Linked DNA regions of Homo sapiens: region 1 is linked to region 2. The links come from fine-mapping of genetic effects on gene expression. Tissue or cell type: whole blood. Region 2 holds a variant in brackets; the other region holds the start of a gene. All regions are shown on one strand. Distances are from middle to middle.

What was found. PIP is the estimated chance that this variant, and not a neighbour inherited with it, causes the effect.
Region 1: RAVER1 starts here. The variant in region 2 is fine-mapped to the expression of RAVER1 in whole blood (TOPMed, PIP above 0.99).

Annotation. Positions count from the first base shown.
Region 1 is chr19:10,329,087-10,337,086 of GRCh38, forward strand. It overlaps RAVER1 (ribonucleoprotein, PTB binding 1), which reads right to left and starts at 4,443. Exons shown (of 13, transcript NM_133452.3): 1 at 4,203-4,443; 2 at 1,374-1,440; 3 at 1-25. The coding sequence starts at 4,421. It overlaps ICAM3 (intercellular adhesion molecule 3), which reads right to left. Exons shown (of 7, transcript NM_002162.5): 3 at 6,585-6,890; 4 at 5,980-6,267; 5 at 5,442-5,696; 6 at 5,074-5,322; 7 at 4,690-4,973. The coding sequence ends at 4,771. RefSeq lists enhancers at 2,920-3,836, 3,837-4,753, 4,244-4,463, 4,704-4,843, 5,468-6,086 and a silencer at 3,848-4,071.
Region 2 is chr19:10,264,074-10,272,073 of GRCh38, forward strand. It overlaps ICAM1 (intercellular adhesion molecule 1), which reads left to right and starts at 7,047. Exons shown (of 7, transcript NM_000201.3): 1 at 7,047-7,153. The coding sequence starts at 7,087. LIMASI (lncRNA inflammatory and mucous response associated, antisense to ICAM1) reads right to left here. Exons shown (of 4, transcript XR_007067138.1): 2 at 2,617-2,721. RefSeq lists a silencer at 3,960-4,254 and enhancers at 6,609-6,698, 7,609-7,848. The variant G/A (reference allele first, on the strand shown) is at 3,548.

The DNA of each region.
Region 1 (8,000 bases), 65 kb after region 2:
TCCCCATTCAGCAGGGTCACGAAGGCTGCGGTGGGAGGAGGGCAGTGCGAGGTCAGCCGGGCCCTGAGGGCCTGCCCCTCCACCCCGCCACCCTGCAAACCAGGTGGGACCTCCAAATGCTGGGCATCTCAGGTGCCTGCTGATCTGAGCAGTTGCCAGCCTTGGCGACTCACACAGGCGAGAGCGCCTGCCATTGACTCTAGGCTCCACGAAGCCCACTCCCTCTCCCAGCCCTGCGTCCACCTGCACCCACAGCAGCGCTCACCAACTGTGGGCCTGGCTCTGTCCTAAGAACGCTGTGGGTCACTCGGGTGATACCAAGGGCAGTGGTTAAGCCCATGCTCACTGGGGCCCAGATTTAAGCCCCAAGCCCCAGGTGGCTTTGGGGGTATCAGTTTCCTCATCTCTCAAATGGATATAACTTAATCATCACAATCACCATTTTGCCAGAGAGGAAACGGGCCCAGAGCAGCACCCCTGTGCCCCGAGTAGGGGAGCCTGGACTTGAACCCAGGCAGCCGGACTCCAGAGGCCCACTCTACACACTGCCCACCCCTGCCACCTTTCCAGGCCACCAGTGCCCCTGAACCCTGCTGCCACGTGCTGCCCCAGATTTGCGATCCACCCAGCGGCCGCAGGAAGCTTTGTTCAAAACGATCACGCCACATCCATCTTGTGGCTTCTAGCTGCAGGGTGCAGTGCAGCCTGTGCGGGCTCGCTGACCTCCCCTCCCATCTCACCGCTGCCACCCGGACCACGCCAGGCACACTCCAGAGGGGCCTTTGCAGCTGCTGTTTCTTGAGCATGGAACACTGAGCCCCACCTCCTCACCTGGTTAACCTGGACCCACCCAGGTAGAAACCCTGTCTCTACTAAAAATACAAAAATTAGCCGGGCATGGTGGCACATGCCTGTAATCCCAGCTACTCGGGAGGCTGAAGCAGGGGAATGGGCTGAACCCAGGAGGCGGAGGTTGCAGCGAGCCGAGCTCGCGCCACTGCACTCCAGCCTGGCGACAGAGCAAGACTCCATCTCAAAAAAAAAAAAAAAAAGACCACACAAGCAGGGGTGACTGGCTGAGTGAGGCAAGAGGGGTAAGAAGAGAATGAACCCACGGCCAAACGTTGTCAAGAATTAGCTCAATGCCAAGCGAGTGGAGTAGGAAGAGAATCAGCCCGATGCCCAGTGTTCTCCAAGGAGAACATGAAGGCTGTCCCAAGATGACAGGATGACAGGCAGATTGGGGCAACCTGCCATGTTGGCCTGGGGGGCAATACTGGGCCTGAAGCTCAGAGCAGCAGACAGTGAGCCAGGCCCTCCCATCTTCAGGGATGGTCACTCCCTGCCCTGGCCCGCCCCATGGCCCCACAAACCTGTCCCTTTGTATTTGTCCACAAAACAGTATTTGAGCTCATAGTCACTGAGCAGGTCATGTACTTCCTGTGGAGATACAAGACAAAAGACAGGGAGTTACTGGAGATGGAAGGGGGCAACCCAGTGCCGCTTCATAGCTGCCACCAGCTATGAAGGCAGGTCAATTACCACCCCCCATTTTACCAATGAGGAAACTGAGGCTCGATGCAGTAATTTTGTCAAGGTCATTCTGCTCATACCTGGCAGAGATGGGATTCAGAACCTAGCTGCAGACTGTGCTATTACCCAGGCAACATGCTCTTAGAGGGTATACCTTTAGCTGGCTGGGCGGGGTGGCTCACGCTTATAATCCCAGCATTTTGGGAGGCCGAGGCGGGTGAATCACCTGAGGTCAGGAGTTCGAGACCAGCCTGGCCAACATGGTGAAACCTTGTCTCTACTAAAAATACAAAAATTAGCCAGGAGTGGTGGCGCACACCTGTAATCCTAGCTACTCGGGAGGCTGAGGTAGGAGAACTGCTTGCACCCAGGAGGCAGAGGTTGCAGTGTGCCACTGCACTCCAGCCTGGGTGACAAAGGGAGACACTGTCAACAACAATAACAACAAGGCCGGGCGCGGTGGCTCACGCCTGTAATCCCAGCACTTTGGGAGGCCGAGGCGGGTGGATCACGAGGTCAGGAGATCGAGACCATCCTGGCTAACAAGGTGAAACCCCGTCTCTACTAAAAATACAAAAAAATTAGCCGGGCGCGGTGGCAGGCGCCTGTATTCCCAGCTACTCGGGAGGCTGAGGCAGGAGAATGGCGTGAACCCGGGAAGCAGAGCTTGCAGTGAGCCGAGATTGCGCCACTGCAGTCCGCAGTCCAGCCTGGGCGACAGAGCGAGACTCCGTCTCAAAAAAAAAAAAAAAAAAAAAAAAAAATAACAACAACAAAAAAAAAAAAAAAAAAAGAGGCCGGGCTCACGCCTGTAATTCCAGCACTTTGGAGGCTGAGGCAGGCGGGTCACAAGATCAAGAGATCGAGACCATCCTGGCCAGGAAGGTGAAACCCCATCTCTACTAAAAATACAAAAATCAGCTGGCTGTGGTGGCGTGCACCTGTAGTCCTAGCTACTCGGGAGACTGAGGCAAGACAATTGCTTGAACCCGAGGGGTGAAGGTTGCAGTGAGCAGACATCAAGCCACTGCACTCTAGCCTGGCGACAGAGTGAGACTCCGTCTCAAAAAAAAAAAAAAAAAAAAAAAGAGTATGCCTTTAGGGAAGCCATTTAACCTGCATGAACCTCCTTTTGCAAGATTCACTGTTTCCAACAACTCTGTAAGTGAAGTATTAACAAACTCATGTTGTATATGAGAAAACTTAGGCTAGGAGAAGTGAAGAGATCTGCTGGAGGCCATGCAGTTGGGCAGCGCAGCCACCCATGGGTACCTGACTGGGGAGCCCACCTTCTAGTAAGCCCCACGTTGTGTGGGTTCACATGCCTCCCAATTTCCTCCTGCTGATAAAGCTGCCCTCTTCCAAGCCAGCTCATTTATTTTTCTTTTTTTTAGAGATAGTGTCTTGTTCTGTCACCTAGGCTAGAGTGTAGTAGCACAATCATAGCTCACTGCAGCCTCAACCTCCTAGGCTCAAGTGATCCTCCCACCTCAGCCTCCTGCGTAGCTGGGACTACAGGCACGCACCACCATGCCTGGCTAATTTTTAAAAATTTTTTGTAGAGATGAGGGTTTCACTATACCGCCCAGGCTAGTCTCGAACCCTTGGGCTCAATACAGCCTCTTGCCTCAGCCTCTCAAAGTGCTGGGATTAAAGGGATGAGCCACCATGCCCAGCCTCTCAAGCCAGCTTTGAAGGCAAAGTGCTGGCGCCTGCTGGGACCAGACACACTGTGCATCTTGCAGGAGAGACAATGTGTTCCCAGCTGAGAGACTGCAGACACTGAGAGGAAGACCCAGAAAGAAACCTGACCATCCTTAATGATCCCTGTCCCGATCTGTCCCCAAATTCAGCCCCTCCCAACATCCCTGGGGTTCCACTAGCCACGTGCCCACCCGGTGTGCTGGTGGGCCGGAGAGCAGGGAATCTCAGCAGCAGGAAGCGAGAACCTATTTCACCGCCATAGGGCAGGGCAGTATAGATGCCATTTCCCTGGGTCCAAAGAGCATTGGGAAGCGCTGCCCCATGCTGGCCCCATGAGAAGGGCACTCCTAGCAGGAAGATTAGCCACGAGGGGCTCCATAGAACACAGGCCTCGCTTCCTTCCTGTAGGTCTGTAGGCTGGTGGCAGAAGACCCCATTTTCCCAAATTAATCCTGAGGTTTTGGGGGCTGAGACCCAGGGGCTGCTGTTAACTTCCGGATTTATCTCTGAGAGCAGTGAATAAACGCGTGATATGGAGGGGCGTACTCTCCGCAGTCCTGAAACTTCTGGATGTGAGGTCCCGCCACCCTGTGGTAGAGTGGGTGGAGAAAAGCATCATCCAAGCAGGGGGCAACTGGTGGTCCAATGTACCAGCCCATTCACAATTCCCCAACAGGACCAAAGCTGTCCGCCCCCTTCCATTCCCCGCCCGCTTCCATCACTTGGTGTCGCCCAAGCCTGTGGTCGCCCCTAGCAACGCCCTCCCTCACTTCGCAGTCGGTTTCCCCTTTCATCATCGCCCCCCCACGTCCCGCTCTTGGTCTCTCCCGATCCCGCGTGGATCCGGTGCTTGGGCGCCCCCGCCAACGACCCCCGCGCACCTCAGCGTTGGTGTCGCCCGGTTCCCCCCGCGCACGCGCACCGTGGTATTTCCCGCCACGCTCCTACACCGCCCCCCCCAATACCTGGTTGGTCACGTCCCCCGGGAGGCCCCGGATCAGTATCTTGCGGCGGTTACGGAACTGGCGCTCGGTGTGTTCCAGGCGTTTCCGGATCTCTTCTGGATCTAGAGGCGGCAGCTCTTCTTCCGGCGCCCGGCGCTCCGCGGCATCGCCGGCTTCGACTTCGGCCCCAGACTTAGGGCTCAGCGGGGGCCGGTGAGTAACGGACACGTCCGCCGCCATCTTGGGAAACCCGGCGCCTTCTGGGACCAGCGAGCCGGGGCGGAGCGGCATAGAGCGGCAACGAGGGCGCGCCCGTCGATTGGCTGGGAGAAACCCCACCTCCTTCCCGCCCCCCTTGCCCCGTTGGCTAAGCCCCAGCCCACCTCTCAAGAGTTCAAGCTGCGTCTGCGCGCCACAGGCCCCGCCCCCTTCCGTCGCAGCGACGCTACTCAGTGGATGTGCACCTGGGTGGGAGAGACTTGCAGCGCGGGTGGAATCAAACCACAGATTAGGGAGTTTGAAGGCTTTATTGGTGCGGAATCTGAGGGCACAGCCAAGCCCCCGCCAACTTTGATCCCGGATCCCAGCGTCACTCAGCTCTGGACGGTTCTTCCCCCATTGCTTCTGTCGGCTGCATAGACGTGAGGGGCAGATAGGTGCTCTCCTCCCTAACATGGTAACTGCCGCTCCGTTGGTGCTCCCTGAAGACGTACATTAAGGCCAGTACGATAGTCACCACGCCCAGGGTCAGTAACACCGCCACGAAGACGGGGACAAAGTGGGAGCTCCCAGCTGTGCAGAGAAAGCGCTAAGTCAATATGCGTCCCTTCTGTCTCCAACCCCCCCGCCCCCCGGCTTACCGGTCCAGACCCGCAGCCCCGTGTTAGCTCACCCTCAATGTCCATCACCACGACCAGGGTGTATTTGCCTCGTGAGCTGGACGCTTGGCACTGATAAGTACCATTATGTGTTACGTTGACGAAGAACGGGATCCCCACCGGCACCTCCCGGCTGGAGCCTTCCTTCAAACACCGCAGCTCGGGGTACGGGTTGCCCCTGGCTTGGCACTGCAGGACGTGTCTCGTTTTATCTTTCCATTTCAAGTGCTGGGGGCATGTGGCTCGGTCAATTTTGGGACCATCTGTGGAACCACCATGTGTGATCAGACACCCAACACACCCGAGGCACAGTGGTGCAGAGGAGCGTCTAATCTTTCCAGGGCAGGGGTGGAGGGATTAAAGGTCAGGGTGACCGACTCACACAGGACTCGCAGCTGGACGCTACTGTTCCTGTGCAAGAACTCGCCGTCCACCTCGAGAGTGGCACTGCAGAAGAAGCTGCGTCCGTCGTCACTCTCGGTAGCATTTAGCTGAAGTTGAGCTGGCTGCCCCGGGGCCGCGGCCGGAACTCCGTCCAGCGTGACCTGGACTCGAGCCCCAGCCATGCAACTCACGGTCACTGTGGACCCCTCATGGGCGGTGGGCTCGCTGAGGTTCACAATGGGTCCTAGGAAGCCTAAAGGCGGGGCATTGCCCAGGAGCTTAATGAACAGGACCTTCCTGTGGGTCAAGCCGCTCCCTCCGCCCTCCCCTTTCCTCTCGGGATATCCGGGCCACGCTTTCGGCCGTTCAAGCCTCGCCCTCTTTCCGCGCTGTGTCCAGCTTCGGGCACTCAGGCCCAACCCACGTTGCAACTGCTATTGGGGCAAGCCAGGCCCCACCTTTTCGGCTAGTCTCCGCCCCCTCTGCCACGCCCCCAGACTGCTGAGGCCGCGCCCCCTTCCCACGCCTCCTCTTACTAAAGACCGTCAAGTTCTCCCGGGCCTCCCGTCTCTCGCCCCCTAGGGTCACGTTGCAGACGATCTCCCGGGCACCCTCCTGATCCGCGCGCGCCGTGGCTGTGGCTGTGGCCGTTAGCGTGTCCCCGTGGTTCATGACTGTCGCATTCAGCATCTGGTCCCCCAGCGCCAGGTAGACCTGGGCCTCTGAGGCTGGAAAAAGCCCGTCTAGGGTGCAGTCCACCGGCCACGACGTTTCCACCTCCAAGAACCGGGGGGCCACGAGGCGCGGGGGGGTCACGGGCAGGACTGGGGAGAAAGGTGGGCATAGTACAACCCCCAGGACTGTGCCTTCCCCAGGACACCCTCATCCCCCCCAGTCAGGATATCTTGCTGACTGGGTCACCCTTCTTCACAGGACACACACACAGGGCCATGAAAACGGCCTTCTTCAAAGATCCCACGGCTCGGGCCTCCCTTCCGGGGCCACCTTGCCCAGTGGCCGGGGGCTTTCCTTCCCAGAAGCCTGTGAGGTCCGGGGTACCCCACTCTCAGGAACCCCAAGGTCAGGGCACCGTCTACCCTGGCTCAGCTCGTCACCCACCGTCTGAAGCCCCTTCTCTCACCAAAGGTTCGGAGCTGGCGGGGGGCTGAGGTGTTCACGAACAGTCCCAGCCCCTGGGGCTGCATGTCCAGTTCTGTGCGGCATGAGAAAGGGGCTCCGTGGTCGTCTCTGCTGGCCAGCACAGTGGCAGTGACCTCCGCTGGCTCCTCCACTGCGGGCTGCCGGCTCAGCTCCTCCTCCCAGCGAAGCAGCACCACCGTGAGGCTGGTCCGGGGCGACCCATCCTCCACTTGGCAGCGCAGGGTGAAGTTCTGGCCCACCGGCTGCCAAGGAGGCAGGGGTGCCAGCTCCACACGCTCCGGGAGCCCTGAGAGAGGAGGGGAGGATGGCACTTAGCGGGTCCTGCAAACCCACCCACTCACCCCAGGGACTGGGGAGGAGACAGGGTGGTCCTGCCGAGAACTGTGAGCTTTGAGTTAATAAACTTAGAGGGCTTAGAGCTGGGCCAGTCGAAGCGTTTGCTATTATCATTAGCGCAGTGATTATCATTTCCTGTGTTGTCAGATACCTTGCAAGGCGCTAAACAAAACTTTCTGTTCTCAAAGATGGCACAATAAAAAAAAATGAGGATGGAAGGGATGAACGTTTATGACTATGATATGAATATTAAAAATTCCTGTTTATGGCCAGACGTGGTGGCTCACGCCTGTAATCCCAGAGCTTTGGGAGGCCGGGGTGGGTGGATCAAAAGGTCAGGATTATTCAGTTCTCTCCAATCAGGTTCAGACACTCAGGGCTTTCCTGGTTCACCAGCCCTGTGGCAGCCTCTCAAGATACTCCGGCACAGTCACAGGAGACTTGACACTCCCAGGCTGGGTGCCCTCCCCAGTACACCTACAAAACGCTGGGCCTCAGGCCGGGCACTGTGGCTCATGCCTGTAATCCCAGCACTTTGGGAGGCCAAGGTGGACGGATCACCTGAGACCAGGAGTTCAAGACCAGCCTTGCCAACATGGTGAAACCCCATCTCTACTAAAAATACAAAAATTAGCCAGGCATGGTAGCACGTGCCTGTAATCCCAGCTACTCAGGAGGCTGAGGCACAAGAATCGCTTGAACCCAGGAGGCAAAATTTGCAGTGAGCTGAGATAGTGCCACTGCACTCCAGCCTGGCGACAGAGAGAGACTCTATGTCAAAAAAAAAAAAAAAAAAAAAAAGGCTGGGCAAGGTGACTCATGCCTGTAATCCCACCACTTTGGGAGGCCGAGGGAGGCGGATCACTTGAGGTCAGGAGTTTGAGACCAACCTGGCCCATATGGCAAAACCCTGTCTCTACTAAAAATACAAAAATTAGCCGGGCATGGTGTCACACGCCTGTAATCCCAGCTACTAAGGAGGCTAAGACAGGAGAATCACTTGAACCCAGGAGGCGGAGGTTGCAATGAGCTGACATCGCGCCATTGTACTCCAGCATGG
Region 2 (8,000 bases):
GAGGCGGAGCTTGCAGTGAGCTGAGATCGCGCCACTGCACTCCAGCCTGGGTGACAGAGTGAGACTCCATCTCAAAAAAAAAAAAAAAAAATTTAGCCAGGCGTGGTGTCAGAAGCCTGTAGTCGCAACTACTTGGGAGGCTGAGGCAGGAGAATCACTTGAACCCAGGAGGTGGAGGTTGCAGTGAGCCGAGACCACATCACGGCACATCTAAAAAAAAAAAAAGTTTTCTGTTTTTGTTTTTTGCAAAACTACTGAAATAAATACAGTGAGATATTTATTTATAAATGAGAACGAATTAATAATGAGCCGTAGGCTGGGTGTGGTGGCTCATGCCTATAATCCCAGCATTTTGGGGGGCCAAGGCAGGTGGAACACTTGAGGTCAAGAGTTCGAGACCAGGCTGACCAATATAGTGGAACCCCATCTCTACTAAAAATACAAAAGAATTAGCCGGGCATGGTGCCGGGCGCCTGTAATCTCAGCTATGGGAGGCTGAGGTAGGAGAATCGCTTAAACCCTGGAGGCGGAGGTTGCAGTGAGGCGATATCACGCCACTGCACTCCAGCCTGGGGGACAGAGCGAGACTCCATCTCTAAATAAATAAATAAGGAGCTGTATTTCAAAATTTGGAGAAGGTGACACTGAGAGTACTGAATACACAGTTTTTTGTTTTTTTGGTTTTTTTTGAGACAGAGTCTCGCTCTGTCACCCAGGCTGGAGTGCAGTGGTGCAACCTCGGCTCACTGCAATCTCTGCCTCCCGGTTCAAGCAAATCTCCTGCCTCAGCCTCCCGCGTAGCTGGGATTACAGGCACGCATCCCCATGCCTGGCTAATTTTTGTATTTTTAGTAGAGACGGGATTTCACCATATTGGTCAGGCTGATCTCAAACTCCTGACCTCGTGATCTGCCTGCCTCGGCCTCCCAAAGTGCTGGGATTACAGGCGTGAGCCACCGAGCCTGGCCCCAAAAAATATTTATCAAAACTATGTTAATGCTGGCCGGGTGCGGTGGCTCATGCCTGTAATCCCAGCACTTTGGGAGGCCGAGGCAGGTGGAACACGAGGTCAGGAGATTGAGACCATCCTGGCTAACACGGTGAAACCCCGTCTCTACTAAAAAATACAAAAAATTAGCCGGGCGCGGTGGTGGGTGCCTGTAGTCCCAGCTACTCAGGAGGCTGAAGCAGGAGAATGGCAGGAACCGGGGAGGCAGAGGTTGTAGTGAGCTGAGATCGCGCCATTGCACTCCAGCCTGGGCGACAGAGCGAGAATCCGTCTCGAAAAAAAAAAAAAAATACACACACACACACAAAAACTGTGTTAATGCTTAACTACACAAAAATGATAATCAGATAAATATGCATTTATTTAGAGAACTGCATGTTGGTCAGTCCAGTCCCTGCAGAGGGAATTCCCAGCATGACCTCATTCACTTGTGAAGACAGAGCAATCCTTGTGTTTTATTTTTTTAAGATGGATCTCACTCTGTTGCCCAGACTGGAGTGCAGTGGCATGATCTCAGCCCTCTGCCACCTCCACCTTCCGGGTTCAAGAGATTCTCATGCCTCAGCCTCCTGAGTAGCTGAGATTACAGGCTTGTGCCTCCATGCCCAGCTAATTTTTTTATTTTTACTAGAGATGAGGTTTCACCAGTTTGGGCAGGCCGGTCTCAAACTCCTGACCTCAAGTGATCCACCCACCTCGGCCTCCCGAAGTGCTGGGATGACAGGTGCCTGGTCAGCAACTGTTGTTTAGACATACACATTTTATCTGCTCGTCCAGCATGGTCAGCCCTCCACTTTTTAAATTTTATTTTATTTATTTTTTTGAGACAGAGTCTCACTCTGTTGTCCAGGTTGGAGTCCAGTGGCGTGATTTCGGCTCACTGCAACCTCTACTTCCCAGGTTCGAGCAATTCTCCTGCCTCAGCTTCCCGAGTAGCTGGGATTACAGGCCCGCGTCCCCACACCTAGCTAATTTTTGTATTTTTAGTAGAGACAGGGTTTCACCATGTTGGCCAGGCTGGTCTCGAACTCCTGACCTCAGGTGATTCTCCTGCCTTGGCCTCCCAAAGTGCTGAGATTACAGGTGTGAGCCACTGCACACGGCCTTAAATTTTATTTATTATTTATTTATTTATTTATTTAGAGACTTAGTCTCACTCTGTTGCCCAGGCTGGAGTGCAGTGGCATGGTCTCGGCTCACTGCACTCCACCTCCTGGGTTCACGCCATTCTCCTGCCTCAGCCTCCCGAGTAGCTGGGACTACAGGCGCCCACCACCACTCCCGGCTAATTTTTGTATTTTTAGTAGAGATGGGGTTTCACTGTGTTAGCCAGGATAGTCTCGATCTCCTGACCTCGTGATCCGCCTGCCTCGGCCTCCCAAAGTGCTGGGATTACTTATTTTGTTTTTTGTAGAGACAGGTTCTCACTGTGTTGCCCAGGCTGGTCTTGAACTCCTGATCTCAAGTGATCTTCCCACCTCAGTCTCTCAAAGGGCTGGGATTACAGGGGTGAGCCACTGCACCCCACCTTCCCTCTACTTTTTGACGGTTTCCTTCTGCTATGAATGTGCATGTCCAGTTGTCTGCTTCTTAGAACTGATATTTACCTTCCTCATCCATCAGCCATTGGAGGAGGACTGGGACCGCTCAGATTATTGATCTGACCCATTCTTTCGGCAGGGTTTCCTGGTGGCTGTCTTCCATCACCAAAACTGGAATCAGAAGAGTTTCCATAGCCCTTTTTTTTTCCCCACATCTTTGCTGAAGCAGAGTTTTGAAAAACAAAACCACAAACTAAGCTATTCCCCAGAAGAAATCTGTAATCAAAGATAAGCTCTGCCGGGCACAGTGGCTCACGCCTTTTGGAGGCCAAGGCGGGCGGATCACCTGAGGTCAGGAGTTCTAGACCTGCCAGGCCAACATGGTAAAACCTCATCTCTACTAAAAATACAAAAATTAGCTAGATGTGGTGGTGGGTACCTGTAGTCTCAGCTACCTGGGAGGCTGAGGCAAGAGAATCGCTTGAACCTGGGAAGTAGAGGTTGCAGTGAGCCGAGATTGCACCACTGCACTCCAGCCTGGGCGACGGAGTGAGACGACCTCACAAAAATTTACATAAATAAAATGAAAAGTAAAATAAAAATACAAAAGTTGGCCGGGTGCGTTTGCTCACGCCTGTAATCCCAGCACTTTGGGAGGGTGAGGCAGGCAGATAATGAGGTAAGAAGATCGAGACCATCCTGGCTAACACGGTGAAACCCTGTCTCTACTAAAAATACAAAAAATTAGCTGTGCGTGGTGACACGCACCTGTAGTCCCAGCTATTTGGGAGGCTGAGGCAGGAGAATCACTTGAACCTGGGAGGTGGAGGTTGCAGTGAGCCGAGATCGCACCACTGCACTCCAGCCTGGGCCACAGAGTGAGACTCCATCTTGAAAAAAAAAAAAAATACAAAAGTTAGCCAGGGGTGTTGGTGGGTGCCTGTAATCCCAGCTATTTGGGAGGCTAAGGCAGAAGAATTTCTTGAACCTAGGAAAC[G/A]GAGGTTGCAGTGAGCCGAGATCACACCTCTGTACTCCAGCCTGGACAACAGAGCGAGACTTTGTCTCAAAAAAAAAAAAAAAAAAAAAACTAAATAGGCCGGGAGCAGTGGCTCATGCCTATAATCCCAGCCCTTTGGGAGGCCAAGGCAGGTGGATCACTTGAGGTCAGGAGTTTGAGACCAGGCTGGCCAACATGGTGTAACCCCGTCTCTACTAAAAACACAAAAATTAGCCGGGTCTGGTGGCGTATGTCTGTAATCCCAGCTACTCGGGAGGCTGAGGCAGGAGAATCACTTAAACCTGGGAGGCAGGGGTTGCAGTGAGCTGAGATCGTGCCACTGCACTCTAGCCAGGGTGACAGAGTGAAACTCTGTCTCAAAAAATTAAAAAAGAAATTCAGCAAGTAATGAGTTAAGGAATTCGAATATTAAGGCGAGTGACAAGGAACGCCCAGGATGTGGCCCAGGATGGAGTAGGGGGGACACTCATTTAGGAGAAAGCTCAGGCCACAAGACAGGAGGAGCCAGCCTTGTTGGGGTTGAAGGGAAGAGCATTCCAGGCTGAGGGAACTGCAAGGCGTTTGCATGGGACACTATGGGATGGCTTCTGCCCTTGGTGGGCAGCCTCTGGTCTGAGGCCATTCTTTGGCCTGCCTGACTGTCTGGCAACCGGGAGGAAGCCCTGCCCTTCCTGGAGACAGAAACAAAGGTCTAGGAAATATCTGCTTCCCTTTTCCTTGAAAAACGCTTAAGGGAACGGAGGACTGGGAGGTGCCGTCTCTCTCTGCCAGCCTGCCCCCTACCATAGCCATCCCACTCCCATCTCAGAAAGTGACCCGCCATCCTCCAAAAGGCTCGGACCCTGATCAAGGAGTCATCCCCCTTGTCCCAGCACCTCCAGTTGGCCCAGCCTCCAAAACGGATGTCAAATTCAGCCCTTTCTCCAAGGACACTGCCCAGTCCAGGCCCCACTATCATTCATCTGGACTAGAACAGTCACCTCCTCTCCCATCTCCTGGCTGCAGCTCTTGAAGCCTCAACTGGGCCCCTGTGAACACTTGAGTTAGGGCAAGGTCCTTCCTCTGCTCAGAACCCTCTATACCTCCCACCTCGCTGGGCATAAAAGCCAAAGTCCTGGCCAGGCACGGTGGCTCACATCTGTTATCCCAGCACTTTGGGAGGCCAAGGGGGGCGGATCACTAGAGGTCAGGAGTTAGAGACCAACATGGTGAAACCCCATCTCTACTAAAAATACAAAAATTAGCTAGGCGTGGTGACGCACCCCTGTAGTACCAGCTACTCGGTAGGCTGAGGTGGGAGAATCGCTTGAACCTGGGAGGCAGAGTTTGCAGTGAGCCGAGATCACACCACTGTGCTCCAGCCTGGGTGACAGAACGAGACTGGGGTTCAGAAACAAACAAACAAAACAACAAAGTCCTCCTCAGGTGACAGGAACTTGCACCTATCTGCCCTGTCATCTCCCTGCCCGCTCCTCTCCTCGAATCTCTCCTTTGCTAAGCCTGCTCCAGCCACACTGTTCTCCTGGCTGTTCCTTTTTTTTTTTTTTTTTTTTTTTTTTTGAGTCTCACTCTCACCCAGGCTGGAGTGCAGTGCCTCTATCTTGGCTCACTGCAACCTCCGCCTGCCGGGTTCAAGAGATTCTCCTGCATCAGCCTCCCAAGTAGGTGGAATTACAGGTGTGCACCACCACACCCGGCTAATTTTTGTATTTTGCATAGAGATGGGGGTCTCCCTATGTTGCCCAGGCTGGTCTTGAACTCCTGGGCTCAAGTGATCCTCCCATCTCGGCCTCCCAAAATGCTGGGATTACAGGTGGGAGCCGCGCCCAGGTGGATTTTTGTCTGACTCTGTTCATTCCTGTGTCCCCAGTACCTGGAAGGACGCCAAGCACACAGTAGGCGCTTAAAAAACATTGAGCCACATGTTGAGAAAAGAACGGCACCATTGTGGCTGCAAGTGGGACTTGGGCCGCGCGGGGGAGCTCGCGCACCTCGGGCCGGGGCAAGAGCTCAGTGGAACCCGCCCGAGGAAGAACCCGTGGCGCAGGATTTTCCCAGGCCTTCTGAGGACCAGGGGCGTCCCCCGTCCCACCCTGTGACTTTGCTCAGGCCGTTCCGGGGCGGGAATTCAGAACTCCTCAGCCCCCCAAGAAAAAAATATCCCCGTGGAAATTCCTTGGGAATGACCGAGGCGGGGGAAATATGCGTCTCTGGATGGCCAGTGACTCGCAGCCCCCTTCCCCGATAGGAAGGGCCTGCGCGTCCGGGGACCCTTCGCTTCCCCTTCTGCTGCGCGACCTCCCTGGCCCCTCGGAGATCTCCATGGCGACGCCGCGCGCGCCCCACAACAGGAAAGCCTTAGGCGGCGCGGCTTGGTGCTCGGAGACTTAAGAGTACCCAGCCTCGACGTGGTGGATGTCGAGTCTTGGGGTCACACGCACAGGCGGTGGCCAAGCAAACACCCGCTCATATTTAGTGCATGAGCCTGGGTTCGAGTTGCCGGAGCCTCGCGCGTAGGGCAGGGGTTCGAGCGCCCCTTCTCCCTGCCTCGCCTCTGCGCCTGGGGGCTGCTGCCTCAGTTTCCCAGCGACAGGCAGGGATTTCGAGCGTCCCCCTCCCCTCCCTCGTCAAGATCCAAGCTAGCTGCCTCAGTTTCCCCGCGGAGCCTGGGACGCCAGCGGAGGGGCTCGGCGCGTAGGGATCACGCAGCTTCCTTCCTTTTTCTGGGAGCTGTAAAGACGCCTCCGCGGCCAAGGCCGAAAGGGGAAGCGAGGAGGCCGCCGGGGTGAGTGCCCTCGGGTGTAGAGAGAGGACGCCGATTTCCCCGGACGTGGTGAGACCGCGCTTCGTCACTCCCACGGTTAGCGGTCGCCGGGAGGTGCCTGGCTCTGCTCTGGCCGCTTCTCGAGAAATGCCCGTGTCAGCTAGGTGTGGACGTGACCTAGGGGGAGGGGCATCCCTCAGTGGAGGGAGCCCGGGGAGGATTCCTGGGCCCCCACCCAGGCAGGGGGCTCATCCACTCGATTAAAGAGGCCTGCGTAAGCTGGAGAGGGAGGACTTGAGTTCGGACCCCCTCGCAGCCTGGAGTCTCAGTTTACCGCTTTGTGAAATGGACACAATAACAGTCTCCACTCTCCGGGGAAGTTGGCAGTATTTAAAAGTACTTAATAAACCGCTTAGCGCGGTGTAGACCGTGATTCAAGCTTAGCCTGGCCGGGAAACGGGAGGCGTGGAGGCCGGGAGCAGCCCCCGGGGTCATCGCCCTGCCACCGCCGCCCGATTGCTTTAGCTTGGAAATTCCGGAGCTGAAGCGGCCAGCGAGGGAGGATGACCCTCTCGGCCCGGGCACCCTGTCAGTCCGGAAATAACTGCAGCATTTGTTCCGGAGGGGAAGGCGCGAGGTTTCCGGGAAAGCAGCACCGCCCCTTGGCCCCCAGGTGGCTAGCGCTATAAAGGATCACGCGCCCCAGTCGACGCTGAGCTCCTCTGCTACTCAGAGTTGCAACCTCAGCCTCGCTATGGCTCCCAGCAGCCCCCGGCCCGCGCTGCCCGCACTCCTGGTCCTGCTCGGGGCTCTGTTCCCAGGTGAGTCGGGGTGGGGATTGCCGTCGGGCCAGTTCTCCGAAGCCCCGGGAGGACCGGCTCCCGGGTCAGGTCATGCATGCTTAGGTAGCTGTTTATGGGAAGGAGGGGCTAGAGACAGCGATTGAAAGGCAACAGCCAGTAGGTTCGAATCCAGACCCTGCATACCTCCACGTGTGGCCTTGGGCTATAGATTGCAGCTTTAAAAAAGGGTAGGGGGTTGGAGATGGAGGGGAGGGGCGGGCCTCGTTTTGTTGCCCAGGCCGGTCTTGAACTCCGGGGGTCTAGCCTTACCTCCTGCCTCAGCCTCCCGAGTAGCTGGGATGAGAGGTGTGAACCACCGCCTTGCTTGGCTAGATTGCGTCTCTTACAGTTTCTCAGCTGTAAAACGGGAAACGTTATAGCGGCCACCTGGCAGGGTATCTTGGCCCAGCGCAGCACCTGGCCCCAGGACTCGATCATGATGGTTTGGGAACTTGGCTCTGTGCCAACCCAACAAGGCTTAAGGGACCCCCACCCCCCTCAAGATGTATATTCTGTTCCTCATCCTCTCTGCCCCTGGGGAAGTCCAGGGCTGCTTCTACTTGGGGGAATTCCAGAGCTGACTTATCCGTGGCCCAAAGCTGAGAAGTGGGACGCCCCAGCACACCCTCCCCCAGCTCCAGCCCAGCTAGGGAAGAGGGAAGGGGTCAGAGGGTCTTTCATGGTGGTGTAAGTTTGGGGAACCAGGAGGGTGGGAGATTGACAGCTTGGTTAACAGCTCAACAAAGCCTGAGATCCAGGCCAGCACGGTAGTTCATGCCAGTAATCCCAACACTTTAGGAGCCCCAGGCGGGCGAATCACTTAAGG